Regions from separate parts of the Homo sapiens genome. Here region 2 is linked to region 1. The links come from fine-mapping of genetic effects on gene expression. A gene starts in region 1. The other region holds a variant in brackets. All regions are shown on one strand. Distances are between the middles of the regions. Region 1 holds the start of SELENOT (selenoprotein T). Region 2 overlaps SELENOT (selenoprotein T).

What was found.
Region 2: its variant is fine-mapped to the expression of SELENOT in whole blood (TOPMed, PIP above 0.99).

What each region holds. Positions count from the first base shown.
Region 1 is chr3:150,594,654-150,610,230 of GRCh38, reverse strand. It overlaps SELENOT (selenoprotein T), which reads right to left and starts at 6,910. Exons shown (of 6, transcript NM_016275.5): 1 at 6,732-6,910. The coding sequence starts at 6,868. LOC124900547 (a long non-coding RNA gene) reads left to right here and starts at 7,048. Exons shown (of 2, transcript XR_007096128.1): 1 at 7,048-7,287. RefSeq lists enhancers at 6,452-6,751, 6,026-6,799, 6,772-6,921, 7,042-7,121, 10,130-10,339 and 2 more.
Region 2 is chr3:150,623,751-150,639,327 of GRCh38, reverse strand. SELENOT (selenoprotein T) reads right to left here. Exons shown (of 6, transcript NM_016275.5): 4 at 14,429-14,516; 5 at 12,165-12,318; 6 at 8,892-11,669. The coding sequence ends at 12,194. Among named protein-coding and RNA genes, the nearest start is that of SELENOT, 28 kb to the right of the region's middle. RefSeq lists a silencer at 3,912-4,206. The variant C/T (reference allele first, on the strand shown) is at 9,282.

The DNA.
Region 1 (15,577 bases):
GTGGTACAAATGCTAGGTTTCGTAATGCCAAACTATAACAAAATTAGTTAAGCTACCTTCAAAAGTAAGCACTGTAATGTGACAATAGAGACCAATCATAAGTAAAACAGTTGGGTTTCATTTTCATTCACATAACTACTAGGAATCTTTGATATCATTCACTCTGTTCCTCATTTTTTTCTACCAGCCAAAATTACCTTTTAAAACATTAAACTAATGAAATTCTCTAATGTAATGTAATTTTGGTACATAGCCCCTATCAAATTCTTACTCAAATTCTGAAATCACAAAAATTCACAAAAATAAATCATACCAAACACTGACACTTTAACCAACAACCTAATGACAAAATCTAGGAGAAAATTATATTAATTATAAGGTAGACAGAAAGGTCAAGATTAAGAAAAATTACCTAAACTCTGCTTCAGGAAAATTCCTATCTGAAAGCTCACAGATCTAAGGCTCATCCCAAAGGGAGAACCAAATAGCTGGTCAACTTCAGTGAAGTAAGATACTATCCATGCTCCCATTCCCAACTTTCTATATCCTGACAGAGGATGTGTTAAAAAGAAAGAAAACACCAAGGCTGGGCAAGGGGGCTCCTGCCTGTAATCTCGACACTTTGGAAGGCTGAGGCAGGACTGCTTGAGCCCAGGAGTTCAAGACCAGCTTTGCCAACATGGTGAAACCTCCTCTCTACAAAAAAATACAAAAATTGGCCAGGCATGTAGTGCGCGCCTGTAATCTCAGCTACTTGGGAGGCTGAGGTGGGAGAATGACTTGAGCCTCGGCAGTCGAGGCTACAATGAGCAATGACTGCACCACTGCACTCCAGCCTGGGTGACAGAGTGAGACCCAGTCTCAAAAAAAGAAAAAGAAAACATCAACAGAATAAGTAGCAAGGGTGTGTCAGTTTCAGGGCAGCAGGAAAAGGACTAGCAGTAGCACAGAGAATTCTGGAAGTTTATAGTCCCACCTGTAGAGGCACGGAGGCCAGGCCGAAAAGTTACTGATGGCGCAGTGTATTCAAAACTTAAGTTTTACCCTCAACAACTTAAACAAAGGAACATACCTCAAAATAGTAAGAGCCATCTCTGACAAACCCATAACCAATATCATACTGAATGGGCAAAAGTTGAAAGCATTCCCCCTAAGAACTGGAACAAAACAAGGATGTCTACTCTCACCACTCCTATTCAACATAATACTAGAAGTCCTAGGCAGAACAATCAGGCGAGAGAAAGAAACTGTACTAATCAAAATTTAGGGGTTATCTTGGTATTTCTAAATAATATATTCAACTCAATTGTCCAGCACTTGCCTTAATGGCAAACTGTTAGGAAATTATGTTTCAATTTTTTGTAAAAGGTTATAAAACCTTTAAGATCATTCAGTCATGTTTACCTATATCTAAAAGCTTTGAACTAAGTACTTAATTCATTATTAAGTGGAAACAACTATTATGTGCAAGGAGTTCAATTACATGCTGCAGCTATTTTTTTAATGGTAACACTCTACTACTACTAACCTGCTATCTACACCAACTTCTTACTACTCCTTTATTTCATTGATACCAATAAGCATACTTTTCCATATTTAGCATCTCTACTTTTCCTTTTTTTAAAATTAGAGACAAAGTCTCGCTATGTTGCCCAGGCTGGTCTTGAACTCCTGGCCGCAAGCAATCCTCCCACCTCAGCCTCCTGAGTAGCTGGAATTTACAGGTGTAAGCCACTAAACGTGGCTACATGTAGCATCTCTATAAATTAAAAAAACAATAACAAACAAAAAAAGCCACAGGATTTATCTTATAATCATTAGTGTGTCCGTTTAAATGGCAGTATTTTTTTCTTCTAAATGGCATATAAAATCATGGTACATCTTACAATCCATTATGTATTTTAGGTTTGATGTAATAAAGTAACTGTTAATTTAAGTTTCTTAGTTTCAGTTATCATGGCTATTTTGGAGATAAAAATTTCTTTGTGGGGGTTTTCCCCTGGCTACTATGTCCTTAGTCTTCAAAAATCAGGATTCCTTCCCTCCCACCAAAAACATTCATAATACTTGTTTATTTTAATTATCATTCCAGTGAATGGTATAGCATCACCACAGAACTCAGGAATCATCTTTGACATCTCTCACTTCATGCCACCTCTCTTTCCCCACAAACATACAATTCATCATTAAGAGCTGTTAAATTTACCACATAAAGATCTCTCAAATACATCTCTTTCTATTTCTACCACCTCCTTACTTTTCCAAGTTCCATTATCTCTTGCCTGGACAACTCCAAAAGCCGCCCTAAATGGTTTCCCATCAATTCTTTGTCTCCTGGAATGTCTTTTCCACAAGAAAACCAAACGGTCTTTGTTAAGCATGGCCTGCCAGACCCTCAAGCTCTTAACGGCACCTTCTTTTAGGTCTCTGAGGTCAGTAGGCTTAGGCTTCTCTGGTAAAACTGTGGTCTTTCCTACTATAAGTACACTGAACATGTTATTCCCATTGCCTGGAAAGTTCTCGCCAAATAAATCTTATCCTTCGAATCTCAGTTCAAAGTTCATTTCCTCATGGAAACCTTCCCTGATCCCGACTAGGCATCTCTCATACCACCACATAATCTTTCTTCACAGCACTTAACACCAATTGAATTTTATCTGTGTGGTCAGTCCATGGATTAATGTCTGCATCTGCTCTTGCCTGTGAAGTCCACGAGAGCACTGAATTGAATTCTCCGCAGGAAGCAAAGTGCCTGCACAGAGTAAGTGCTCCAATATCTGTTGAATATGCAAATATCAAGTCTACAGTAACCAACATGATCTCTGTAACTCACAATTTCTCCAATTCAGCATTTTACTACTAATCTTGATGAGTATCAACATCCAAATCAACCTTAGGTCTTTATTTTCTTGCTGTCACACTATGAAAGCCAAGGCTGAATAGTTGTAAATTTAAATAAAAATCTGTTTTGGTACAGTTGTTTCATTTACCTCTTAAAACTACATTTAGAAGTTGGCTGTCCTAAAATTACAGCAGTAGATTCTCAAACTAACAAAACTTTGAAAATCCCGCCATATTCTACTTATGTTTTGAAATCTCAATTTCATTTAATCTACTATTCTCAGCAATTCAGTTGTCAAATGTTCAAGTAAATATTAACTGTAAAGGGTTGTAGCCAATAATCTCTTTAAACTGCAACTAATTAAATGCTGTAGATCTGATTACATGTTAAATCGCATATACGGAGAAAGTATGTATGACAAACATCATGCCTAAGAGTAACTATCAATACAAATTTATAAAAATCAATAAAAGGAAAACACAAAAAGGGAATTTCAGCCGGGGGCAGTGGCTCAAACCTGTAATCCTAGCACTTTGGGACGCCAAGGTGGGTAGGTCACTTTGAGGTCAGGAGTTCAAAATCAGCCTGGCCAACATGGTGAAACCCCGTCTCTACTAAAAATACAAAAATTAGCCAGGCGTGGTGGTGCACACCTGCAGTCCCAGCTACTCAGGAGGCTGAGGCATGAGAATCTCTTGAGCCCAGGAGGCAGAGGTTGCAGTGAGCTGAGATCACACCACTGCACTCTAGCTTGGGCAACAAAGCAACACTGTCTCAAAAACAATGGAATTTTAAGCTCTGATTAGAGAACTTCCTTTTTCTATGTTAAGTGTTAAACGTCCAAATAAGCAGAATAAATTTTTTTCCAAGTATGAAGCCAATATAATCAAAAGTATCTAATTATATTGCTCAATCAACATAATAAACCACAGACTCAGATACACAAGTAATACTGTGCCAGTCTGGTAGACTTCTTGAGATGGTCACATCTTTAGCATGCTTAATTCCTGGCATACAGCAGGTATTACACACAGCCTGGGCAACAAGGCAAGACCAGGTCTCTACAAAAAATATGAAAATTAGCCAGGCGTGGTGGTGCGCGTCTGCAGTCCCAGCTACTTGGGAGGCTGTGGTGGGAGGATTATCGGAACTCAGGAAGTCAAGGCTCCGTGATCATGCCATTGCACTCCAAACTGGGTGACACAGCGGGACTCTGTCTCAGCAAAAAAAAAAAAAAAGGAAGAAAGAAAGGAAAAAAAAAAACGAGAATAGGAAACTCTGTCGTAAGCTACTCTACAAGCTTGATCTCTCAGCACTATGTTGCTATTGTGTTGACTAACAATTGCAAAAGTGGTACAATTACCAGGTGATATATTGAGGTATAGTTATTTTTGATAAAATACTCATGATCACTATAAGGGGAAAAAGTCAGTGGAAATGAAGGTAAAATAGTTCTCTTTTGATTGTTAGCAGTGGTAATTAATGAAAAGCTGCATTTTATAATACTGACTTCAAATGGAATTTTAAAATTCTCATGTTTATCCTCAAACGTATTAGCTTCCTGTCCTTTCTCAAACAAACTTGCAAATTAATGTCCACAAGATTCTAGCAAAACCAGAAACCCAATATTCACTTTACCATAAACAGATTAATCTCTGGGGGGAAAAGCAACAAACAACAAGCTAAGTTGATCTGTATTTGGTGGGTCTTATTAATAACGTTATTTCCCATCTACAGATTAAACAAAAAATGATCTCCGGTGGATAGTGTCAGAAAAATAAAAATAAAAATAATTTTTTAAATGGAAGCATTTTTGTTATATAACATGCTCAGAGTGACTGTAAAAGAAAATTATTAGACTTTTGGGACAGGTCTGTACTTAAAAACAAAGAAAAACAAAGTATCAAAAGTTTAACTGAAGTACTTACTACTTTTTTTTTAAGTTTAATTTGAAGGACTGAATGCCCTTCCCTACGTTTGTTTACACATTTTGAAAACCTTGCTATGAATAGCCTTGGTGGAAGATACACCTGGTAAATTATTGTGACAAGTGTTCCAAAAAAAGCAAACGTAAAAGGGGTATTTTGGAAAAGCAAAAATACAACCAAGAGATAAAAGTAGGATACAGAAAAATTAAATAATTTGAAAACTGCAATTTTTTAACACTTAAATCCGTAAGTATCACAACCCTTAACAATCTTTAGGTTAGTAAGATGATTACCACCTTCTAATTTAAAAATTAAGGAAAAAAGTTAATGGATAAACCATTCTCCCATTTGCAGTATTACATGAAAGATGATATATTCCAGAAACATAGTACATTGTACAGGGAGGTTTTTTTTTTTTTTTTTGAGACGGAGTTTCGCTCTTGTTGCCCAGGCTGGAGTGCAATGGCGCGTTCTCGGCTCACCGCAACCTCCGCTTCCCGGGTTCAAGCGATTCTCCTGCCTCAGCCTCCCAAGTAGTTGGGATTACAGGCATGCGCCACCACGCCAGGCTAATTTTTGTATTTTTAGTAGAGATGGGGGTTTCTCCATGTTGGTCAGGCTGGTCTCGAACTCCCGACCTCAGGTGATCCGCTAGCCTCGGCCTCCAAAGTGCTGGGATTACAGGCGTGAGCCAGCGAGCCCGGCCTTGTTTGTTTTTAATCAGGAGAAATTGCAATGTTTTAGTTTTCACTCAAAAAAATAAAGTCTCACCATCTTATTTTCTAACTCAAACATCACCTTAAGCCGATTTTTAAAAATTATTTTAAAGGTTTGCTTGGTCTTCAGTGAGTAAGTAAAAAGCTAGTTGGAGAAGTAGAAAATCAAAACTTTAATATACTAATACATGAAGTTCTTAAAAGAAGGTTTTAAATGAATGATGTCCAACACCAACATTCCAATGTATCCGGACTCTGATGATTTACTAATCTGGCTATTCTGGGATGGTCGGTTTATCCTGAGAAAATGTCATCTTTGGAGGTGTAAGATTCTCATTTCTATAATTTTACAATTTTGGTGTTTTTTCCCCCATCTTCAGAGCCTTTCAATCCCCACCCGCAACCCCACTTACCGTATAAAATGCATCATTGCCCTGCTTCTAACGATTAGGTTAAAAACAAAATCATTTAAAGAACACTGTCGAAAACTGCCGAGATCTGCTGGATACACAAGACAACTGAAAGGTAGAAAGAGATGCCAGAGCAGGCAACTCCTGGGAGGCAGGTGAGGAGGGAATGCGAGCGAACTGTCAATGTTTAGAAGAACAACGTGCTCCTTTTCTGACACTTTGGAAATGGCAAACAGAACCAGCATCCCCAGACCTTCCTTCCACCCCCTCCAGCTGTCAGACGCCCCATTCGCAAACTCAACAGTCCCCCCAGCAAGTTCAGGAGAAAAACGGCGTCTGTCACTCCCGGATCCTCTCCAATGACCCGAATTAACCTTCATCTAGCCAGGCAGCGAAGCCGCCCGGCATTACCCCGGAAAAGAGGGCAGAAAAAGTGAACTGACAAACGGTTGGCGCTCCTCCGCCGACGCGGCGCCTACTCATCCCCATCTCCGCAGGCAGCCGGGGTGGCTATGGCGTGACGCCGCCAACCAGTCCTCCGTACTAACAGGTGTCCCCCAGTCTTCGCCTTTCAGCGTTTAACCTTCTCGCGCCCTCCTTCCCCATTCCCACTGTTCTAGGAGGCAAAAAACAAGTGAGCAGTTATACCTGGAAAAGGAGGGCGGCCTGACCGCGCTAAGGGGCCGCGAGAAGGCTGGCTGTGGAAGGGCGCCGGCACAGTTCTACGAGGCCAGCGAAGATGCGGCCATTTAGGCCGCGAAGCCGGGGCCTCGCGTAGCCAATGGCGCCGAGCAGAGGCGCGGCGGGGTGGCCGGGGCCCAGTGCACATACTCACCAAATCTGGAACTTGAGCAGCGGCCCCGTGGCGTACTGCATCTTTAATCTCTTGCTGGGCACGCCGCCCAGATTGGCCGAGGCCTCGCTCCGGACCATCGCAGACGCCGCCACTAGGAGAAGCAGCAGAAGCCTCATCTTAAATGAGCCAGCCACTTCGGCCGCCCTCAGACAGACTGCAGCCAGCCCAAAGCCCAGGAGCGAGCTGCTCCCCACTGCGCAGGCGCGATCAGCCAAGGTCGGGGGAGGGGAGCAGTAATGCGCCTGCGCGGCCCGGCGCCCGCGCACACTCCTGGAGTGAAGAGCCGACCTGTTTCACTGTCCTGACTCACCACCATCTTGGTAGTGTGCAAGACTCTGGGACGGCATGAGAAAGGCAGAAAGGGAGCAAAGGAGCTGGTGGGGTGTCACAGGGCCTATGTATGAGGCAGATGTGAGTTCTGCATCCAGTTTTGCAATTTATCCATTTACCTGCCTGAGACTTGGAAACACCTACTTTATAGTCCTGATTCAAGTGTTGGCGGATGGAAGGGAGGAGACTCCTGACCCTCAGAATGGTAATGCTGAAATTTTTTGGGTGCGCTGTTATGGCCTTTTCTTTGATCTTACAATATTGCTTTCTCCTGAAAGAATATTAAACATAAGTTTTAGGAAACCTTTGGACAATTCCAAACATATCCAAAAATAGAATAACTACCTTAGCAAGCTTTAACAGTTACTATACATTTTGACAATCTTGATTTGTCTATATCTCTAAACACTTCTTCCCTTCCTAGGCATATTTGGAAGCAAATCTCAGACATCATATCATTTCATCTGTATATATATATTTTTAAACACGGTCTCACTGTCACCCAGGCTGGAGTTCAGTGGCGTGATCATAGCTTACTGCAGCCTCACACCCCTGGGCTCAAGCAGTCCTGCCTCAGCTTCCCAAGTGGTTAGGAATACAGGCACAGGCAACTATGCCTGGCTTACAATTATTTAAGCACATATTTCTAAAAAAGAATTATTATTAAAAAGAAAAAAAATTGACCACAGTGTTTCACATGTCCGTGTGAAGAGACTACCAAACAGGCTTTGTGTGAGCAACACAGCTGTTTATTTCACCTGGGTGCAAGCGGGCCGAGTCCGAAAAGGGAGTCAGCAAAGGGTGGTGGGATTATCATTGGTTCTTATAGGTTTTGGGATAGGCGGTGGAGTTAAGAGCAATATTTTGGGGGCAGGGGTTGGATCTCACAAAGTACATTCTCAAGGGTGGGGAGAATTACAAAGAACCTTCTTAAGGGTGGGGGAGATTACTGATCAACAAAGTACATTGATCAGTTAGGGTGGGGCAGAAACAAATCACAATGGTGGAATGTTATCAGTTAAGGCTATTTTCACTTCTGTGGATCTTCAGTTGCTTCAGGCCATCTGGATGTATATGTGCAGGTCACTGGGGATATGATGGCTTAGCTTAGGCTCAGAGGCCTGACATTCCTGTCTTCTTATATTAATAAGAAAAATAAAACAAAATAGTGGTAAAGTGTTGGGGCAGCGAAAATTTTTGGGGGTGGTATGGAGAGATAATAGGCGATGTTTCTCAGGGCTGCTTCGAGCGAGATTAGGGGCGGCGTGGGAACCCACAGTGGGAGAGATTCAACTGAAGAAAGATTTGGGGGTAAGGGGTGATATTGTGGGGTTGTTAGAAGGAGCATTTGTCGTATAGAATTATTGGAGATGGCCTGGATGCAGTTTTGTATGAATTGAGAAACTAAATGAAAGACACAAGGTCCGAATAAAAGAAGGAGAAAAATAGGTATTAAAGGACTAAGAATTGGGAGTACCCAGGACATCCAATTAGAGAGTGTCCAAGGGGGTTCAACGTTGTTGTCTGCTTGGTTGGAGAGTTTTTGGGCTCTATCTCTATCCTTAAGTTTTTTTATGTTGTCATATACCAGGCCAGATTGATTTAGGTAAAAACAACACTCTTCATTTAAAAATATACAAAGTCCTCCTTTTTCAGCAGTGAGTAAGTCGAGGCTTCAGTGATTTTCAAGGAAAGAGAGGAGGTGGGAAGGCCAAACTGAGGAATTATGTCTGACAGAAGGGAAGAAATGACCGCGGTGGCCTTCTTAGACCCTGTGGGAAAGGCCTCTACCCACCCAGTGAAATGTCTACCCAAACCAAGAGGTATTTTAGTTTCCTGACTTGAAGCATGTGAGTAAAGTCAATTTGCCAGTCCTCGGCGGGGCAAATCCCCGAGCTTGATGTGTAGGGAAGGGAGGGGGCCTGAACAATCCCTGCAGGGTAGTAGAATAGCAGATGGAACATTGAGAAGTGATTTCCTTGAGGATAGATTTCCACGATGGAAAGGAAATGAGAGGTTCTAAGAGACGGGTTAGCAGCTTGTAACCTACATGGAAGTGGTTATGAAATGACGACAGAATAGAATGGGCCTGTGAGGCTGGAAGGAGATATTTTCCTTGGTCCAAGAACCATTTGCCTTGTGTGGGAAGAGATTGATAGGCGGAAGTTTCAGTGGGGGAGTAGGTGGGAGTGACCAGATGAGAAGGAGAAAAACTGCCATGAAGGATAGAAGTTAGAATGCTAGCTGCTTTTTAGCTACCTTATCAGCATAAGCGTTGCCTTGAGCAGTGAGATCTGATGCCTTGTGATGGCTGTTGCAGTGAGACTCCACTTCCTTTGGAAGTACGGCCTTGCTCAGAGGCCTGACACACAGTATCATTGTCTCACCTTTAAAAAATAGTAATTGCGTAATATTAGTCAGTGTTCAAATATCCTGTGGTCTCAATAACTACTTATTTTCCTACTGTTCATTTGTTAAAATCAGAATCAAAATGAAATTTATACATTGTCATTGGTTGATGTGTCTTTTAGGACAAGTCAAAGACTTTTAAGACCAGGAACACACCAGTAATTGAAAAATTTTGTTTATCATTAATTGCAGCAAGAGGGATGCTATGGTTTGAATATGTCCCCCAAAAAGCATATGTTGGAAACTTAATGCCCAATGTAACAGTGTTGGGAGATGGGGCCTAATGGGAGGGCTCCACCCTCATGAATGGATTAATGCCAATTATGAAAGGGCTTAAGGCTTCGATTTCTATCTGTTGCTCTTTCACTCTTGCACTCTCCTGCACATTTACCTTCCTCCATTGGATAACAACACAAAGCCCCCATAAGATGTGGAGCCCTTGATCTTGGAATTTTCAGCTTCCAGAACTATAAGAAATAAATCTCTGTCTTTATTAATTACCCAATCTCAGTTATTCTGTTATAGCAGCCCAAGATGGACTAAGACGGGGGAACGCACACCATGGGAAACCATGAGAAGACTCAATTAGGAGGTGTTAGGATCTGGGGCTTGATTGGATGATTTGGAAAATGGAGCTGGGGTGCTGAGCGGTTCTATTATCAGAGATGTTCAAACCAGAGTGACTTCATCTTGAGTAGGGACTGAGTAAAATGAGTTGGAGACCTGCTGGGCTGCATTCCCAGGAGGTTAGGCATTCTTAGTCACAGGATGAGATAGGAGGTCAGCACAAGATTCAAGTCACAAAGACCCAGCTGATAAAACAGGATACGGTAAAGAAGCCAAAACCAAGATAGAGACAAAAGTGACTTCTTGCTAATTATAATATATTCACATGCTATCTCCTTTACTGCTTATTGTATGCTAATTTAACACACTAGCATGCTAAAGGACACCCCCACCAGTGCAGTGAAAGTTTACAAATGCCATGGCAACACCTGGAAACTACCCTATATGGTTGAAAAGAAAGAGGAACTCTTTATTCTGGGGAATTCTTGCCCTTTTCCCCAGAAAACTCATGAATAATTCACCCCTTGTTTGGCATATAATCAAGAAATAACCATAAAAATAGCCAACCAGCAGCCCTCAGGGCTGCTCTGTATATGCAGTAGCCATTCTTTTATTCCTTTACTTTCTTAATAAACTTGCTTTCACTTTACTCCATGGACTTGCCCCCAGTCCTTTCTTGAGTGAGATCCAAAAATTGACTCTTGGGGTCTGGATCAGAACCCCTTTCCAGTAAAATTAGATTTTTTTTTTTGAGACATAGTCTCACTCTGCCTAGGAGACCAGCCTGGGCAACATGATGAAACCCTGCCTCTACAAAAAATTTTAAAATTAGCTAGGCATGGTGGCACACACCTATCGCCCCAGTTACTCAGGAGACTGCGGTGGGAGGATCACCTGAGCCAGGAAGGTCGAGTCTGCAGTGAGCCCTGATGGTGCCACTGCACTCCAGCCTGAGTGACAGAGTGAGACCTCGTCTCAAAAAAAATAAGATAATGGGTGATACAGCTAGCCATAAAATGTCTTTAAACAATGGGGTTGGTGCGACTGAAGTTCCATACTCCTGTTTCCCTGGACCTGATAAATTTTACATACATTGCCAGGCACAGTGGCTCAGGCCTGTAATCCCAGTACTTGGGAGGCCGAGGCGCACGCATCACAAGGTCAGGAAATCGAGACCATCCAGGCTAACATGCTGAAACCCCATCTCTACTAAAAATACAAAAAATTAGCTGGGTGTGGTGGCGGGCGCCTATAGTCCCAGGAGGCTGAGGCAGGAGAATGGTGTGAACCCGGGAGGCGGAGCTTGCAGTGAGCCGAGATTGTGCCACTGCACTCCAGCCTGGGTGACAGAGTGAGACTCTGTCTCTAAAAAAAAAAGAAAAAAAAAAAATTTGCATACCTGATATAGCTCAGGCTACTCAGCTATTTTCCTTTCCTCAGGTCTAATTGTTAAAGCAGCAGCAGTCCCTCTTCGTGGCCAAGGAAAGGAATGTTTGGTGTTTTGTGGGTAGCTCAGTGACCTTTTTTTGGTCTGTGCTTAAACAAAATTAAATATCTTTTTTTCTTTTGCAATTTATTTTATTTATGTATCTCCCAACCTGCCCTGCCTCTTTGTCTCTTTTTCCCTTGTGACTTACTTGCCGAAGAAACCATGTGTTTATGGGTTTTGCTGCTGATTACAAACCCATACACTGCCCTTTTTTTTTTTTTTTTTTTTTTTGAGACAGGGTCTTGCCCTGTTGCCCAGGCTAGAGTGCAGTGGCACCATCTTGGCTCACTGCAACCTCTACCACCTGGGCTCAAGCGATTCTCCCACCTTAGCCACCCAAGTAGCTGGGACCACCATGGCCTGCCTTTTTTTTTTTAAATAGAGATGGAGTCTCACTATGTTGCTCAGGCTGTTCTCAAATTTTTGGTCTCAAGTGATCCTCCCACCTTGGCCTCCCAAAGTTCTAGGAATACAGGCATGAGCCACTGTGCCCTGCCAGGGTGTACTTTAATATATATCTGTGTCCTGTGTGTTCTCTGTAAATTAGTAGTTACAGCTAGAGGACTGGACACTTTTAAGTTTAAATTCTTCCAGCAAGACTATAAAAAAGGTGTTTTATCTTCATAATTTATTTTAAAAATTAGATATGGGTAAAAGAACAGACATAGAAAGATTATTGCCATTTAACATAACCCTTGCAAATAACAGATGGTAAATTGGTACCAACATAATTATAAACAAAAAGCAAAACTCTGGCACTAAGATGGCATGGTAGTATTGATACTGGTGAGCTAGGGAAGATCTCCAAACGCTGGTGGGACCCTGACCCTGGCTGGTGTCCAGGCCCTTGATACCATCTCGGGAAGGAATTCAACAAGTCAGAAAATAGTGAAAGTGGCTGGGAGCGGTGGCTCAGGCCTGTAAACCCAGCACTTTGGGAGGCCGAGTGTATCCATTTCAATATCAAAAGTAAGAAATAAAATACCCCATACAAAAATTGATTAGCAAGCTCAATTATCTTGTGGTGGCTTCCTTATAATAAAAATAAAATAATAATAATAATAAAAAAGTGGATACATGTTTTTCTCAGCATCTATTCCTTCTTCTGGTAATGGTACCTCAGTTTCTCTTCAGGGGACCAGAAAGACCCCATTGCACACAGTCTTGGGACTACTACTTGAGGTACTCAAAACATTCCCACCAGAGGTGTGCCTGTGTCCAAAGCCAAAGGTATTCAAAACATTCCCACCAGAGGTGTGCCTGTGTCCAAAGCCAAAAGGTATTGAAGCTGATTAATTCTAATAGAAGAACCCTAAGGAAAGTTCTAGACCCCAAACTACTCTGGGTATTGTCTTCTCCAGGGCCTCATTCTTCATCTTTTCCTTTGACTCTATGAGTTACCACACATTTTGTTTGCAAACCAAGAACCCTAACTTAGAGCCCTGTATTATCTTTATCTTTCCTTCTTTGAGTCTTGCTTAGTTTTTTTTTTTTGTTTTGTTTTTTTGTTTTTTTGTTTTTTTTGGAGACAGAGTATCACTCTGTTGCCCAGGCTGGAGTACAGTGGCATGATCTCAGCTCACTGCAACTTCTGCCTCCTGGGATCAAGCAATTCTCCTGCCTCAGCCTCCCGAGTACCTGGGACCACAGGCATGTGCCACCATGACCAGCTAATTTTTGTATTTTTAGTAGAGACTGGGTTTCACCATGTTGCCCAGGGTGGTCTTGAACTCCTGATCTCAAGTGATCCACCCACCTCAGCCTCCCAAAGTGCTGAAATTATAGGCATGAGCCACTGTGCCCAGCCTTGCTTAGGTTTTCTAACTGTTGCCATTCCCACCTCCAACTCCTAAAGAGAATTATAGACAAGGCAATACTTGCAAGTTCAGATAGTAGACTGTCCATGTCTGGGAGGCCATTACACAGAGGCAAGAACCATAGCCAGCAAGTTGTTTAGGCCAGCAAGCTTAAAAAGCAAGGGCCAGACCTCTGTATGAGGAAAGGGCTAGAGTAAGAGGCCTATGATAAAATTCTGAAACAAGGACTTTTGAAGTCTAGTTATCTAAAAAACACAGGGCTCAAATGTAAGAACAAACAGAATCATAACTATCATCAGGTTGCTTTGCACAAGCATAAAAACTAATGATGTATGATATTATTTTCGACTTACTAAAAATCAAAATAAAAAAGACTAATGATGTATATACCTGGTTTTATTTTTGGAGTTTTAAGTTTTGGTTACTGTGCTGGAGGGATAGTAGGATATGCTTAAGTCACCAGCCCCTCCATAAAAGTCTCAGATCCTAAAACTCAAAGGGGCTTCCCTGGGCAGAGACATATCCCAAATTCACTGCCAGAGAGAGAAAGTGAGAGCGAGGGAACTCCTATGTAGTACCCAATGGGAAATGCTTAGGAAGCCTGTGCCTGGCCTCTCTGAACTCCCTTGATGCATATCTTTTTCCCACTGCTTTTGCTCTGTAACCTTTGCTGTAATAAGCCTTACCACGAATATTACTTGCTATTCCATCTTGTGAGTCTTTCTACCTAATCACTGAACTTGGGTCATGGGACCGCCGAAACAGAAGGCATGGGAGGAGTTCAGGGAGTACAGGATAGAGGAGGACCTGGTGAGCCTAGGGCCTTGGAAGAAGCTGATCAGGAAAACAAAATATATTGATTACAACAAAATCAAGTTGTAATAATTGTGGGACAGGAAAAAAAAACTATACTCAGTTTTTGTGATTTTGTAGGAAAATGGGCACTCCATTATACTAACTTGGGAAAATAAGTAAGTCCAGTTTTTTGGAACTACAATCTGTCAACATAAACCCAAAGCCTTAAAATGTACATGAACCTTGACCCAGCAATTCCACTTCTAAATCTAACCTAGAGAAATAATAATGTATAGCTCAAGATTTTAATTACAAAAATATTCATCACAATGTTATTTTATAAATTTATAAATCAGAAACAATTTCAGTGTCCAACACTGCATTAAATAAATCATGGTATATTAATTTAGTGGCATTTTAACAACCATTAAAAATGACTTATAAATTTTTATATGTGTATAAGTTACATGCAGAATACCAGCCTGGCCAATATGGTGAAACCCTGTCTCTACTGAAAATACAAAAAATTAGCTGGGCGTGGTGGCAGGCACCTGTAGTCCCAGCTACTCGGGAGGCTGAGGCAGGAGAATCCCTTGAACCTGGGAGGCAGAGGTTGCAGTGAGCTGAGATTGCACCACTGCACTCCAGCCTGGATGATAGAGTGAGACTCTGTTTCAGAAAAAAAGAATAATATACAAGGAACCAAAAAGTGGTTGATTCCTGAGAGGAGAACAGGGAACAGAGTGACTAGGGAACAAAGATGGGAGAGAAGTTATTCTTATTGCATAAGTAACTTTTGTATTTTAAAGTTGTGTGCTGTTGTCTTGTAATACTTATTCAAAAAGTAAATATATGTTTTAGAATTCAATGAAAAATAAAGTGCTCAACATAGAATGTTAAAATTGGATTACGAAACAGTAAAGTGTTATCACATTATTATTTATGTATTTTTTAAAGTACATAAATAGGAAGATATGGATCAAAATGTTTTGCTTGGCTATATTTCCTGTTAAACATATGTTATTTTGGTAATAAGAAAAAAAGATAGCTGAGCATGGCGGCACGCACCTGTGGTCCCAGCTACTCGGGAGGCTGAGGTGGGAGGATTGCTTGAGCCCAGGTGGTTGAGGCCACAGTGAGCCATGACTGTACCACTGCACTCAAGCCTGGGTGACAGAGCAAGACCCCATCTTTAAAAAAAGTACCAAATAGGCCAGGAGCGGTAGCTCATGCCTGTAATCCCAGCGCTTTGGGATACCGAGGAGGGGAGGATCACTTGAGTCTAGGAGTTCAAGACCAGCTTGGGCAACATGATGAAACCCTGTCTCTACAAAAAATACAAAAAGTATTCAGTCATGGTGGTGCACACCTGTAATCCTAGCTACTGAGGAGGTTGAGGCAGGAGGATCATTTGAGTC
Region 2 (15,577 bases), 29 kb before region 1:
ATTTTTGTCAATGGATCTAAGACTTTGTGCTGTGAGGCTGTTGGGTTACTTCTCGGATCACCATGAGGCTTTCAAAGTGAAAAAGTTTTAAAACCATAAAAGAAAACTTTCTTGGCTGGGCATGGCTCACACCTGTAATCCCAGCGCTTTGGAAGGCTAAGGCAAGAGGATCGTTTGAGCTCAGGAGCTGGAGACTAGTCTGAGCAACACAGCAAGAGCTCATCTCTATTTCTAATCAAAAAATAAAAATAAAAAAGTAAAAAATACTTTTTAAAATTTTTAAAAATTGTTTCCCTACTCACACTATACTTCTGATATCAAATGTGTATATTGAGGGGGGAAAGATTCCCACACTAACCAGCTGAGTGTCCTGACATTCCATTCATTTCTATTAATAACACTATCTACCTGGAGTTAGTGTCAGATCCCACAAGTTAAGTGTTCGGTTCCACAAGTCTGTTACCACTTCAGACACCAGTTGCAGGTCCTGGACCACCCATACTTTTGACCAATCAGACATAAATCGGGGGTTCCCACAACCCTCAAGTTCAATAATTTTCTAGAATGGCTCACAAACTCAGGGATACACTTTACTTAAAATGTTCTGGTTTATTATAAAGTATACAACTCAGGAACAGCCAGGTGGAAGAGATGCATAGGGCAAAGTGTGCCTAGCTCATGGAATTTCAGCAATACGCAAACTCCTGTGTGGACTTCTGGAGTTCCTTCTCTGCATAGCTCTGTTCTCTACAGTTGTCTGCCCTGCCAATTCCAAATCACCTTCTTGAACTCCAATAGTGAGATGACTGTATTGTGCTTGGGATCCCCCTCTCTGTACCTTAGTCTAAAAAGTGTCCCTTGGCCAGGCTCAGTCACTCACACCTGTAATCCCAGCACTTCAGGAAGCCAAAACAGATCACCTGAGGCCAGGAGTTTGAGGCTAGTCTGGGCAACATAGCAAGACCCCGTCTCTACAAAAATTAGAGAGGCCATACCAGAAACCAACTCTGGCCAGGTGCAGTGGCTCACACCTACAATCCCAGCACTTTGGAAGGCCAAGGCAGGAGGAATGCTTGATCTTAGGAGCTCAAGACCAGCCTAGGCAACATAGCAAGACCTCGCCTCTATTAAAAATCAAAAAAATTAGGCAGGTGGTGGCACACACCTGTAGTCCCTACTACTTGGGAGGCTGAGGCAGGAGGATCACTTGAGCTCAGGAGATTAAGGCTACAATGAGCTATGATCACACCACTGCACTCCAGCCTGGGCGATAGAGCAAGACTCTGTCACAAAAATTTTTAAAAATTAAAAAATTAAAAAGAAACGAACCCTGACAACACCTTGATCTTGGGCTTCTGGCTGTCAGAACTATGAGAAAATAAGTTTCTGTTGTTTAAGCCACCCAATCGGTGGTATTTTGTTATGATAGCCCTACCTAATTAATACAGCTTCCTCGAAACATTTTGTGCAGTTCCTTGCTATTTATCTTTCTCTTGGGGATCAAGGCCCTGCACTGTCTGTTGTCCAATTTCTGAGAGTAGTTGTTTCACATATTTTGTCTACTTCTAGTTATTTATATCAGGAAGGTGAGTCGGGTCCCAATTACTTCAAGTCCCTTTGCAATGTGTTTCTTTAATCTTTTAACTAAATGAGTTTCAGAAATTTCTGAGAAGGGGAAAAGAATGGGGAATTGCAACTCCATCATAAGGGACCCTTGAGAAATCTGCCGTCACTGTTCATTATCTTCCCAGAGAAGGACAAGTAAGTGCATCATGCCATCTTGGCTGGGGTGGGAGGGAGCATCCTATATATTGTATACCAGGCAGCCCGTATGCCTTGCCAGATTTCAGCAAGATAAGATGTCTAGGTCCTACTCATGCTTGTATTGAATGAGAATTTGGAGGTTCTCATTCAGTTCACAAGGGTAATCAGTTTAATTTCTATCATACAGGCTGGGCGCTGTGGCTCACACTTGTAATCCCAGCACTTTGGGAGACTGGGCTTGGCAGATCACCTGAGGTTAGGAGTTCGAGCCCAGCCTGACCAATATGGAGAAACCCCCATCTCTACTAAAAATACAAAAAATTAGCCGGGCATGGTGGTGCATGCTTGTAATCCCAACTACTCGGGAGGCTGAGGCAGGAGAATCGCTTGAACCTGGGAGCCGGAGGTTGCAGTGAGCCGAGATCGCGCCATTGTACTTCAGCCTGGGCAACAAGAGTGAAACTCCGTCTCAAAAAAAAAAAAAAAAAAAAATTCTACCTTACAATTTTCCTTGGTATAAGGAAAATTCATCCTCTAAGTGAATATCTAGGATCAGTGTCCTTCCTGAAATAAATACTCACAGTGTATTGTCCCTAGAGATCAAAGTCAGGATTGACTGGTCCACAAAACACAAGGATACTTCTCAGAAAAACAAGAAAGAATAATCACATTAAACCACTAGGCTCTTTAATTGCAATGAATCTTATATTCTCAGGGCAGGAAAAAGGCTCCTTAGCCAATGAGCAGAAAATAGACGACAAAAAAATGTAAATGTTACCCAAAGTTTAAAAGCTAAATTGGGAAGATGAGACTAGATTTAAGAAGGATAATTCTAATGGAGTATAGGTTTCAGCATGACAAAAGAAAACTCAGAGGATAGAAGGGGAATGTAACCACAAAAGTTGACATTAATTTTTAAATTGAATATATTACTTATAAATTATTAATCCAAGGCCAAAGATGTCTGGAGTGCGATGCTGAAAGTGCCCACAATGCTTTTGTTAGAACCTCTACCTCTTCATCCTCCTCTCCGCCCACCATAGCCTCAGTGCAGACAGATTCACCCCTAAAAGCCAGATCTGATCTGATGGCTCATCAACTCAGAAACTCTCCTTGGCTATCATCTATAGAAAGTAGTCCAATTCCTCACCTCAGCTGTCAATGCCCGCAGGCTGTTTCCCAGCACATCTCCCTCCACCCGCACCAATATATACTACGGTCCAGCCCCCTTCCCTATAGGAATTATCACAGAAACCCTGTGCTTCTGCTTTCTCATCCCTGAAGTGCTGCTCCTCCTGTGCACTGTCCCCATTTATGGAAAATTATATACTCAAGCATCTAGAACCAATGCTCCCTTCTGCTCCTATAGGCCTCATGAGGCTTCTTATCGTTTTGCTGTAAGATTTTTATGATTCTCTCCTCTGCTATACCATATGCACTTTGAATGCAGGAATTGTGCCACACATCTTCACAACTGTTACCCCCCACGGTACCTAGCACATAGCAATCCCTCCAGAAATGCTCTCAAGAAGCTAAATGGAAACAATATTCTGGAGAAGTTGGAAAATTAAATAGGATTGACTTTCAAACTGTAAATTTGCTTGGTCCTCAGTAAAGATTCCAAAGCTGTTTCCCACCCCTCAGTCAGCCTAAGTGAAGGTGAAAGCTCGGAGGATTAACACAAGTTATTTTCACTGTTGGAAGACATTTCTGAAATCTACTGATCTGGAATGTTAATCACCTCTTACCATCCAACTCATTAACACAAATGCTTTGAAAGAAAATAAATAAACTACACTAAAACCAGTCTTTTTTTTTTTTTTTTTGGTCACATTTCAAAGCTGCCTCTCACCACAGTTCACATTCTCACACAAGTTCAAAGAAAACAGGAAGTGCCCTAGAAACACTGAGAACCCTCTTTCTTTGTGTCCTCTGGGGTAGTCCACTAGCCACTTAAAGCCCCAAAAGTAGTTCTTTGGCTTTTTTCTCTAATCAAAAGAAGAAAAGAGCTAATAAGAGATATTTCCCTTTGTTGGTTTGTTATCCTTGACAATCTTTCCCACTAAAACGTTTGTTACCTTGAATTTAGCCTTTTATTTCATTATTGGAATGAAAAGCTTCCTCTGTTTGTTTTAAGCATAAATATGGAAAAACTACTCACAGAGGCAAGGAAGACTGCTTGAAATGACACTAAGCCTCCTTAACAGCTTTCAGCCTTTCAGAGTGGCTAGGAAACAAGCACTGCCCTCTCCCCGTCTGGGGACCGATTAGGATAAGACTCTTCCACCCCAGGCCCCAGCTAGCGGTGGTGGTTAAGAACAGGACCATTACAGGACCCAAAGAGGCCACTCTGCATGAGCCTGGAGAGTAAAACCCCGGTTGAGAACAACTGCCTTAACCATATTCATTCAGTCAGTCAACGTATGGAACCACAATTTTAGCCTTCCTCAAGACTGTTTTCAGCATGTTTCTCATTACTTTGTACGGTATTTAACTGCTTTTCTGGTACCGTAACTTTGTGTATTATTTTAAAACTCATTATCTTCATTTTCCATATAATCTTCCCACATGCATTTTCTGGATACAAAGCTCCGGAAACACATCTTCTTCTGTTACTGCAATAATCCTTTTTTTTTTTTTTTTGAGACGGAGTCTTGCCCTGTCGCCCAGGCTGGAGTGCAATGGCACGATCTCGGCTCACTGCAAGCTCTGCCTCCTGGGTTCATGCCATTCTCCTGCCTCAGCCTCCTGAGTAGCTGGGACTACAGGCGCCTGCCACCACGTCCGGCTAATTTTTTGTATTTTTGGTAGAGACGGGGTTTCACCGTGTTAGCCAGGATGGTCTCGATCTCCTGACCTCATGATCCGCCTGCCTCGGCCTCCCAAAGTGCTGGGATTACAGGCGTGAGCCACTGTGCCTGGCTTATGTTACTGCAATAATCCTTAAGCAGAAGGCTGTACTACACATTATCTAGAAAACTTATACAAATTTGAAGAAGATGACTCTATAATGATCACCTTATTTCTTAAGATGCTGTCCACACATACACACACACATTCCTCCACGCATTCCTCCAAACCCATGGGGAATAAGATGCCGGGGTTACACGCAGCCTCAGGAGAAACAAATTTCCCGAGCATCCATTTTGCTTAAAGATTTAGGGAGTTAAGAACAATAAAACAACATTTTTATATTAAACCCAGCAATGAACAATTTGAAATAAAATGATTTTTGGCATGAATTTTAAAATGAGACATCAACAAAATTGTGTTTTGCAATGGGCCACATTAGGCCATGGTCCCAGGCAGGCCAGTGCTTCAGCAAAGTTGAGATCTAGTTGAACACAGCATTTCACCAAATTAAAATGGCAAGAGCGTTGAGAGAACATGTGATCCAAACTGCACCTGAGAAGCAGGTGTGCTGTTTTTTTTTTTTTTTTTTTTGAGATGGAGTCTTGCTCTGTCGCCCAGGCTGGAGTGCAGTGGCACGATCTTGGCTCACTGCAACCTCTGCCTCCTGGTTCAAGCGATTCTCCTGCCTCAGCCTCAGCTGGGACTACAAGGCATGCGCTCCCACGCCTGGCTAATTTTTGTATTTTTAGTAGAGATGGGGTTTCACCTTGTTGGCCAGGCTGGTCTCGAACTCCTGACCTCAGGTGATCCACCCACCTCAGCCTCCCAAAGTGCTGGGATTACAGACGTGAGCCACTGAGCCCGGCCAGGTGTGCTGTTTTTAAACTTACCTTACACGTGAGGTAGCCATCTTGCCTGGGACACATAGCTAGTAATCTCTGTGTGTTTTCAATTCTCATCATGTAATCAGTGAATAGGATGAGTCGTCTGAAGAACTGCAATTTATAAACCTGCTTTCGGGGAAGGATCTTTCCAAGTGGGGAAATAGATCCAGTCAATCTGAAACCTGAATTTCATTATATTAGGATAAGAAATTATTATGTAAACTTGCCTTCCTCTGATGTATCTTGCACACACATACACCTGCCTTTTTTAGTTTATTTGAAAAATTTCAGCCCATCTTAGCTAAAGCGTAAATGTGAAGTGAAATTGAGATTAAATTTGTAAAATTGCCTTGTTACTGTCTTCTCTCTTCCCACCTAATTTCTGACAAAGTCCTCTGCTGTTATTCTGCTTTCCCCAAGCCCCGCCAAGGGTGTAGGGTTTGTTTGGTTTTGTTTCGTTGCCATAAGCTATATAACCAGGGCAAGACATTTAACCTCTCTTGGCCTTTTTTTTAATTTGAAAATTCAAGTACTGAAGTAGATCTCAACACCAAATTTCTATACATCTGTATAAAACACAATTTTACTGGAAGAATCACATTTATGAGTCACCTGTTGCTTATATACACTATGTATTTTAATATATTAAAAAATAATTTTATTCCTAGATTTTATGAGCTGTTAAAAGACAAAATTCAGCAGCATTTTCTAATACTATTTTTTAAAACGTTTAGGGAAAAATGTCAATGGCACACTTTCTTTCAAACAGATCTGCTCTTAGCAACTCCAGAGTAACAAAGGAGCTGTAATGGTTTTTTTCCTCTTGTAAGAGTTGTTAGTACACAAAACAGATGAGTATGGCCAGTGGCCCAAGGGAGTGTTGGTAGCAACCTCCCGAGGCCTTAATATTTTTGTTTCTTAACCAAGCAATCAAGTGCTGGCTCCATCCATTCTAGACAACTCTCAAACAGGTTAAATAGCTACCTGATCTGAGCAGTACTTGATCTGAGCAGCCTATAACCACAAAGCAATAGGCTTGTCTTAAACAATTATAACCCTGAATGAGGAGGAGGTTGGGTGGAAGGGGTCAATAAAGGAAAAAGGGATTAACAGATGACAAAATGATCAGGGAGTAGATATCAAGTGAGAAAGTTCCAAGATAGGAAATGTGACACACAAGTTGGACCAGAGTACTTTTCTGGGACTTTAATCCATGCTCTCCTTCTTCCTTTCCCCTCCTCATCATCCCCCCTTCTCACCCCCTACCCCAACTCTCTTCCCTAATTATAATTTCTCTCAAGGAGAAAATGAGGCCGATTTAGAGGAGAGTTCTGATTCTCTCATTTGAATCCCTGAAGCCAATTCTACATTGGACTTTCTCAGTTACATGAACTAATTAATCCTTCTGGGGGGGTTGGTGGGGATAAAATAGTAGATTGGGTTTCCCTGGCAATTTAAACAGTTCTATTATGGTTAATTACTCTAATAAAGCTAAATATGTAAATTTTTCTCTACTCAGAATTACAAGAATTTACATAGATTTTTGCTTAATGTGAAAATCAAAATCAGTTGTCACTGTAAATTAAGGATAATGTAGGTATGCTATTGCCTGGTTTGCTCTGAGAAAATCTGGCAATTCAAACCAGTTATTTTATATTATACTCAAAGATTTAATACTTCCTTCTAAAAGAAATTCATGCAAAAGGTTGTAAAGTGATAACAAGAAAGGATGTGTTGCATTGATAAGACTGGGACAATTAAGTCAGTGTTTTCTTAGAAACATAATCTCCCTCTCATATCATTCTTTTTATCTCCTGAGCTCCCATTTTGCTGAATTTGTGTTAAGTCATTCTACACGTGACGCATCTAGGATGCATCTAGGATGAATCTTCTGCATTCTGCTCTGTGGTATGGTGCTACTCAGTGTAGACCAGCGGTCCCCAACCTTTTCTGGCACCAGGGACTGCTTTTGTGGAAGACAAATTTTCCATAAACGGACAGGGGGTTGGGGGGATGGTTTTGGGATGAAACTCAGATCATCAGGTATTAGGTTCCACCTCAGATCATCAGGTATTAGGATTCTCATAAGGAGCGCACAACCTAGATCCCTCGCAGGCACTGTTCACAATAGGATTCTGGCTCCTATGAGAATCTAATGCACTGGTCTGACAGGAGGCAAAGCTCAGGAGGTAATGCTTGCTTGCCTGACACTCACCTGCTGGTGTGCGGCTGGTTTTCTAAGAGGCCACAGACCACCACCAGTCCATGGCCCAAGGACTGGGGACTCCTGGTATACACCACAGACTAACAGTATTAGAATTATTTTGAAGCTTGTTTGAAATGCAAATTACCTGGTACCATTTCAGATCAACTAAATCAGAACCATTAGGAGTGGGATCCAGAAATTTGTCCCAGTGATTTTTAAGCACATTAAAATTTTAAAACCACTACTGTTTGTCTGCATGCTTTTTTATTTTGCTCATGCTTAACATTGGCAAAAGAAAACATTCTGTTAGTCTTATAGAATGGATGACTTTACAGCTTTCTACTGTATCTGAAACCAGTTTATATTTTTCTTCAAGATACAGTTTGGAGCTGGGTTTTTTTTTTTTTTTTTTTTTTTTGAGGCAGGGTCTTGCCCTGTCACCTGCAGTGGTGCAATCTTGACTCACTGCAGCCTCAACCTCCTGGGCTCAAGCGATCCTGCTGTCTCAGCATCCCAAGTAGCTGGGCCTACAGGTGCATGCTACCATGCCTGGCTAATTTTTTTTTTGTAGAGATGGAGTTTCACCTTGTTGCCTAGGCTGGTCTTGAATTCCTCGGCTCAAGCAATCCACCCATCTTGGTCTCCCAGCCATGAGCCACTGCACCTGGGCTGTGGATCTATTTGTTTCTATTTGCTTTTCTGAAGCCTAGGGGAAAAGGAGCCAGCTGAATTAAAAAAAAAAAATCTGATATTTGCTCTTTCTTCTGAGATTGTTAAATTGTCTATACCAGTCAATAGAGGAAAAACATTCATTTTGTTTCTCTCCAGATTTAAGGATGTTAGTGTGAATGTTTCAGGAATTCTGCAGGTTGGGGGTAAAGACAGACAGTGATGTAAACTGTTCCACTTTGCTCCACTCCAGCACAGAATACATCACAGAGCTATTGACAGTTCAGCAGCACTGAAGCACAAGTAGACCGTAAGGCTTGAGAAGTAGCATAAGGTCCAAGAGTATGGTAAGACTTGAGTGCCAGACTGATAGTGAGTCATAAACACTGGTCGGGTTAAGAAGCCATTAAAAAGTAATGATAATAACTTTTATAATGCAAAATTTTGTGAGTATAGTTACCATATAAAGTGCTCTAATGTAGATTTAATTCCACAAAGTAGGAGTTCCTTTCAAATCAGCTTAATCAAAGTTTATTTTCACAATGCTACAGAGGTAAGTCCCCAAACTTTACAATCCTCATTTGTTTCTCTCAAAAAGATCTCTTTTTTTAAAAAAAAGGCTTTAGAATACCACACCATGTTTAAAATCCTGTAAGCTATTTTTGAAATCTAAATTAAATTCTGACAATGATAAAATGTTTGCCAGCCAATCAAAGTCCCAAACTAATTAACATTCAAAGTAAAAAAGAATCATCATTGGGATCTCATTATATTTTGATAGCTGTAAAGGCTGATTGACTCCTGTCATTAATAGTGTTAGTGTCATAAGCAAATAATATCACTTATATTCTAGAAAAGGAAATAAGCATATTTGTCTTGCACATCTTATACACTGAGGTATAAAA[C/T]CATGTTTTACCAACTTTTTTTATTAATGTACCAAATAATTTCTTCCACAATGGCAACTGTGGTAAAAACCCCCATAGCATTAGCCAACCTGCTGGCATGTTCTATGGTCTTCTAATTAATATAGTGCACAGACATTTATAAACTACACAGCCACAGTAATTTACAAGTAACTAATAAATATTGAAATGCTGGGAATATAACAAAACTACATTCTAAATAGTTTACTTTCCCTTTTTCCTTATATTATTACTTTTATATTCATTCTTCCCACTCATTTTTTTCACTAGACTCTATTAAATTCAAGATTTAAATATGGCTAAGCGTAAGACAAAAGAGATGAGCGTCAACAACACAGCTGAATTTTATCAGTGTCTAAGCCACTTAAAGCTATTCTCCAAAAGATAAGTTATTCAACCCAAGGCAAACAGAGAAAGTTGGAATTGAATCCTAGGTTCTTTATATTTTTAACTGTCAGGTCCACAGGAACATCCAAGGCTCAAGTTTTGAATGTCTACATGTCATGAAGTTAACTATGGCACTAGTGGAATGTCGATTACTGAAGATGAACCCCTAGACACATTCAGCAAGACATTCAACTTGCAGAAGGCAGGGAATTTGGAGTGGTACACAATCAGATAACAAGGTTTCAAGCTCTAGTCAAAGACAAGATGATATTATACCTAAATAACAATTTCTAAGGAACTTGAATAACAATCTCTAAGGACTCTTGTCACTATATGAAGAACTTAAGTTTATGACTCCACACTCTTAATTAAAAGGACAGCCACTTAATCAATTTTCTGCAGTGAATTATTAGACTAACTTCCTAGCATCTGGAGATTACAGTATGTTCCACCTTGAAGCTATCACAATCAAGACCATTACCTGACATGCATTCAACAAATATTCGATGACAAACAAAGTATAAGGTTAATTGTTACAGAAAGTTAGGTCTTCTAACACCTAAGTGTTAAGTGGACTCAATGTTGAACCTTTTTGAGTGCCAACATGACACTCAAAGGAAATGCTCATGGAACATTTCAGATTTCAGATTTGGGATGCCCAACTGGTAAGTATAATGCAAATATTCCAAACTTTGAAAAAAATTATGAAATCTGAAATACTTCTTGTCCCAAGCATTTTTGGAAAAGGGATACTCAACCTGTACCTTATAACTTTTCCTAAATCACTTTTGGCTCTACCACTTCTATTCCTATATGGAAGCTGAAGTATGTTATTACTGCTGTTACATGACTACTCTTCTACATTCTGGTTCTATTTCTGCTAAATTATTCTTACAGTTTTTATCAACTTAAGTTTTTTAAAAAACTGCCTTTTTAGAACTCTGAAACAGTATTTAAAAATTAAATTTAAAAAATTTTAAGTTTTGTTCATCATATACAATAAAATTCTGATATATGATGTTAGACAAATTATTAGTCAGGTAATTTCTGTTCACCTAGTATCAATGCTATAAAGAGGTTCAAGTGAACTTTCTTTAGTGAGATGAGTTTCAATGATCCTAAAGATGGTAAATGAACGATTATTTGTGTATCTAAAGTGTGTACTCTTAAGAAATTATCCATAAATCAAAAACAAAAATTTAAGCAATTGTTAAATATAATGTTAACAGGTACACTGAGCAATAAATTGAAACTTTTAAATTTAACTCATATCTGCTTAGTTTTTTATTTAGTTAAGTATAAAGGCCCAGTTAATTAATCAATTCATTAGATTGGTCAAGGCATGACACTTTAACTACACAATAGGATTTAAAAAGCAGTTGGTTTTTTTAGTAGTTCTCTGGTAATCACACGCACATACACACATACACAAAAATTTATAGAGTACTCTGAATATAGGATTTCCCCCATAATCTTGCATCTGCTATATTTTGTAAACTGTATAAACTGGACATGGCCAAATTAGAGATGTCTGATAAACTCTTATAAAGTATTTGGGAACTTCAACTGGATTCCCAAAGGATCAATTTTAAACTATAAAAAACAAATATTCATATAAAAGCACAACAGATTTAACAGACATCTTTGGAAAAAAAATCAAATTGTAACTCAATTTTCTACTTTTTCAAATATGACTAAGAAAAAAAGTTACAAGTAGTAATGTTTACCTTAAAAAAAAAACACACACACACATTAACTGGGTGATTTTGTGGGAGGTGGGGAAAGCTATACAGTATTATTGCACTCCATGAATGTGCAGAATTCCAAAATATGCCAGCACTGAAACACTATCTTGCATTGAGGTTTTCCAAGAGGTACAACGAGCCTGCCAAGAAAGCATCTGGTCTGTACTAACAGCTTGCTGTCTTCAGTACAGGCCTTCATAATGTCAGTCACGCTGCTCTTGCAATGATCCCTTAATGCCTGAAAGATATACAGAAAAAAGAATATTTTATTGCAAAAATCACTCATAAAAACTCTTTAGAAAGTGAATTCATTGATCACAAAGAAAAAGTTAACTAATACCTCTCTGTGTTCACACATTTGCCTATAAATTTTTTATCTTGAGTATGTTCAAAGAATTTGCATACTCCCAGGAACTAATTACTTGAAGGTAAGGACAGGAAGTATACACACCTCTAGCATAATATATCAACTCTGGCCATTAGGAATTTAGAGTAAAGAAAATAAGGTTACAGACCCAATCATTAAGCCTTGAAGATAAAATTACTAACAACCTGACTTTATTTTGGCAGGGCCGAACTCTCTTCATACACTTCAACATTTTAATGAAGAATACATCCCTCTGTTTAATCTTAAATTGGAAACTCAAGTGATAATATATGTAATATTTACTAACTTGCTGAGTCATAAGAATCAACAGAAACCTATACATTAGCTATATTTTAAACAACTTACAAAAGAGTTTTCAGTGCTGATAGGTGGTGCTATGATCGATGGTGTGGGATTGAATCCATATGCACATTGAGCTTCATTTCATTGTCAAGAATTTGAACAAGTTGTTGCATGGATGGAAGGTGACCAGATTCCAGCTTAGACCACACAGGTACATCTATAAAAATAAATGGCACCGCCCCCCAAAAAATTAAAGATGATTTTATAATATGCATTCATCCCACTAATATTTATCATCTATGTACACAACTGGGATACAAAAGTAGGCAAAAAAGTACACTGCTTGCTCTCAGGGACTTTACATTCCAGTAGGGGAAATGTCAAAAGAACTACACAAATGGCTACAAAATTACAATTGTGTACTTAGAACTAAAACTAAAAGGCACTACTGTACTAGGAGGGACATATACACAAGGCTCTCCCTGTCTAGTCAGAGAAATAGTATCATTTAAATTGAGATCTAAAAGATAAAGAAAAATTACCAAGACAGAGTGGGGATTCATGAGAGTAGAAAACCTTTGAGGGAGAGAACAGAAATGTAAAGACCAGAAAGTAGCTTGGCACTGAAAATAAGAGAAAATCAGCATAGCTGAGGGAAATATAGAAGAGGAGTGATATAAGGGAGGATGGGAAGGTGGAAAGGATTAGACTGGGGTCAATAAACTGTAAAGGGACAGAAAGTAAACATTTTGGGCTAGGGAAGATACATAGTCTCTGCCACAGCTATTCAACTCTTGTAGCCTAAATGCAGCTGTAACAATACACAAGCAAATGGACATGGTTGTGTTCTAATAAAGCTTTACTTACAAAACAAGCAGCAGAGGATATGGTCCATAGGACCACAGCTTGCTAACCACTGAAATAGATCATGCAGAGCCTTTTGGCCAGATTAAATGTTCTGGTCTTTATCTTGAGAACAAAGTCAAGTCATTTAATGAATTGGGAACACTCAAGCAGCAAGATAAAATTTGCATTAAAAAAGTTATTGTTTAGGCTGGGCGAGGTGGCTCACGCCTGTAATTCCAGCACTTTGGGAGGCGGAGGTGGAGGCGGGCGGATCACAGGGTCAGGAGATCAAGACCATCCTGGCTAACAGGGTGAAACTCTGTCTCTACTAAAAATACAAAAAATTAGCCAGGCGTGGTGGCAGGCGCCTGTAGTCCCAGCTACGCAGGAGGCTGAGGCAGGAGAATGGCGTGAACCTGGGAGGCAGAGCTTGCAGTGAATCGAGATCGCGCCACGGCACTCCAGCCTGGGCGACACAGCGAGACTCCGTCTCAAAAAAAAAAAAAAAAAGTTATTGTTTAGAACAGATATTGGTCAATTTTTCTGTAAGAAGGCAGATGGTAAATATTTTACACTTTATGGACCAAGAGATAAAAATCAAGAACATTATGTAGGTACTTATATAATATAAAGATAAATTTCTACAAATTTTTCACTGATGCAAAGCAAAACTTTAGTTATAAGCACAGAAGTTGGAATTTCATATAGTTTCCATGTGTCATAAAACATTAGTTTTTTTTTTAACCAAAAAGTGTAAAAAACATTATTAGCTCATAGGCCGTATTTGCCAACCCTTGGTTTAGAGAATGCAGAAGAGGGTAACAAGTTAATTGTGTCCTGGACTAGGGTGGTGGCAGTTAAGATGAACAGAAGGTAGATTTTTGAAATTTAGGAGGTGGAACTGAGAAGACTTGGTAATCCATAAAATAGGGGGACTAGGGAAGACGGTGATATTATCATAGGTTTCTGGCATGGGCAACTGAGTAGACAAATGATGGTATCACTAAATAAATGAGAAATGTCAAAGGAGGAGCAAAAGAGTTTACAGACATTATAGGAAGGAGAAGTAAGCAAGAGTTTATTTTAGAGTAGGTTATGTTTAAGATTCTTCAGCATAGCATTTTAGGAGAGAGATCGAGAGATATACATTCAGGGATCATCATACAGATGTTATTTTAAAGCCATGGGAGTAGATAAAGTTCACAGAGACAATCTGATAAAAGAATAGGGCCAACTCCTCAAGGAATTCGAAGGTGTGAAGTTCAAGCAGAGATAAAGAGATTAAGTTGAGGGAGCAAATTAAAAAAAAAAAAGTTAAAATTTTCTAAATTCTTCTATCTCCTGAATTTTCAATTTCTTTCAAATAAACTTACTTTTATACAAACACTAAAGAAGTTTATCTTATTATAAAAGATAAAAGCTTGATACTCATTATAAATCATTTAAAATCAATCACAAAATGCAAACTATTCAGAACCTACCATTTAAAGTTATCTCAAATGCACCTGTTGACATACACTGGTTCTCAATCATGTTGCTCAAGAAGAAAACCATCATACATGCATAAACCTAAAAGAAAATATAATTAAGCACAACAGGCAAAGTCATGTTTGGTAAATGCTCTTTTTAATCTACTTTAAAAGTTCCCATAAAAACTATTACTGCTATTCCATATGTTCAGATAACATACATAGAGCAAAAGTAAACCAATATTAATTTGCAGCTCCATACATGCTGAAGCACTTATAGATGATATTCATAATGTACACAGAATTTGAGAGATTTCATAATAGCCTTAATAAGTTAAACAAAAGAATACAAGCATAAGAGTTCACTTTACCATTTTTATAATATATGAATTCATAAGAGACTTGTGATGCAAAATTAGTAACTCCATATAATATTCAATACAACCTGTATATGTTTCAAACAAATCATTTTAAGTCAAACTAAGAAAGAAGTAGGTTAGAAAGCATAGGCATATTAAAGTACATTCATTCACCTTTCAAAGGCAAATCTATACTCTCTCCCAAAAGCGGCTAAGTGTTTCTTGTTGGACAGAAAATTTTACTTTAACAAAATCACAGGACTAAAAGTAGGATGCAGTGAGAATGCCAATTCACAGCAAGCTGTTTCAGAAAAATAAATCAAATGTTCACAGCAGATGAGAAAGAGCTTTCCCTACTGCCCCACAGGAGCTAGGTGGGGTTTGTTTTTATAGGAATTACTCTACCATTTGGGAATGTTAAGTCTATTTTCATGGGAACAATATACAAGGAAATGTCATAAAACCTACAGGGTAGAGATATATTTCAATTAGAGATACCACTTGAAGATATTTATATTAAGAAGTCCTGCCTGTTACTGGAAAGAAATGGTTCCCAAAGAAAAAGAAGCACAGCTATGCAGGAGTCTGCTAAAGGTATTCAGCCTAGAATTAAAGGACAAGATCAGATAGAAGACTCCAAAAAGGAAGACTTCATAAAAGGAAGCCTAGAAAAATCTAATCCATGAGAAAAATAAAAATTAGACCCATTTTAGACAGGACAGTAAGCCCTCCAGAAACAATGATTAAAATCATTTTTAATATTAAAATATTTTACTTAAAAGTAAAATAAATTAAAATCAGA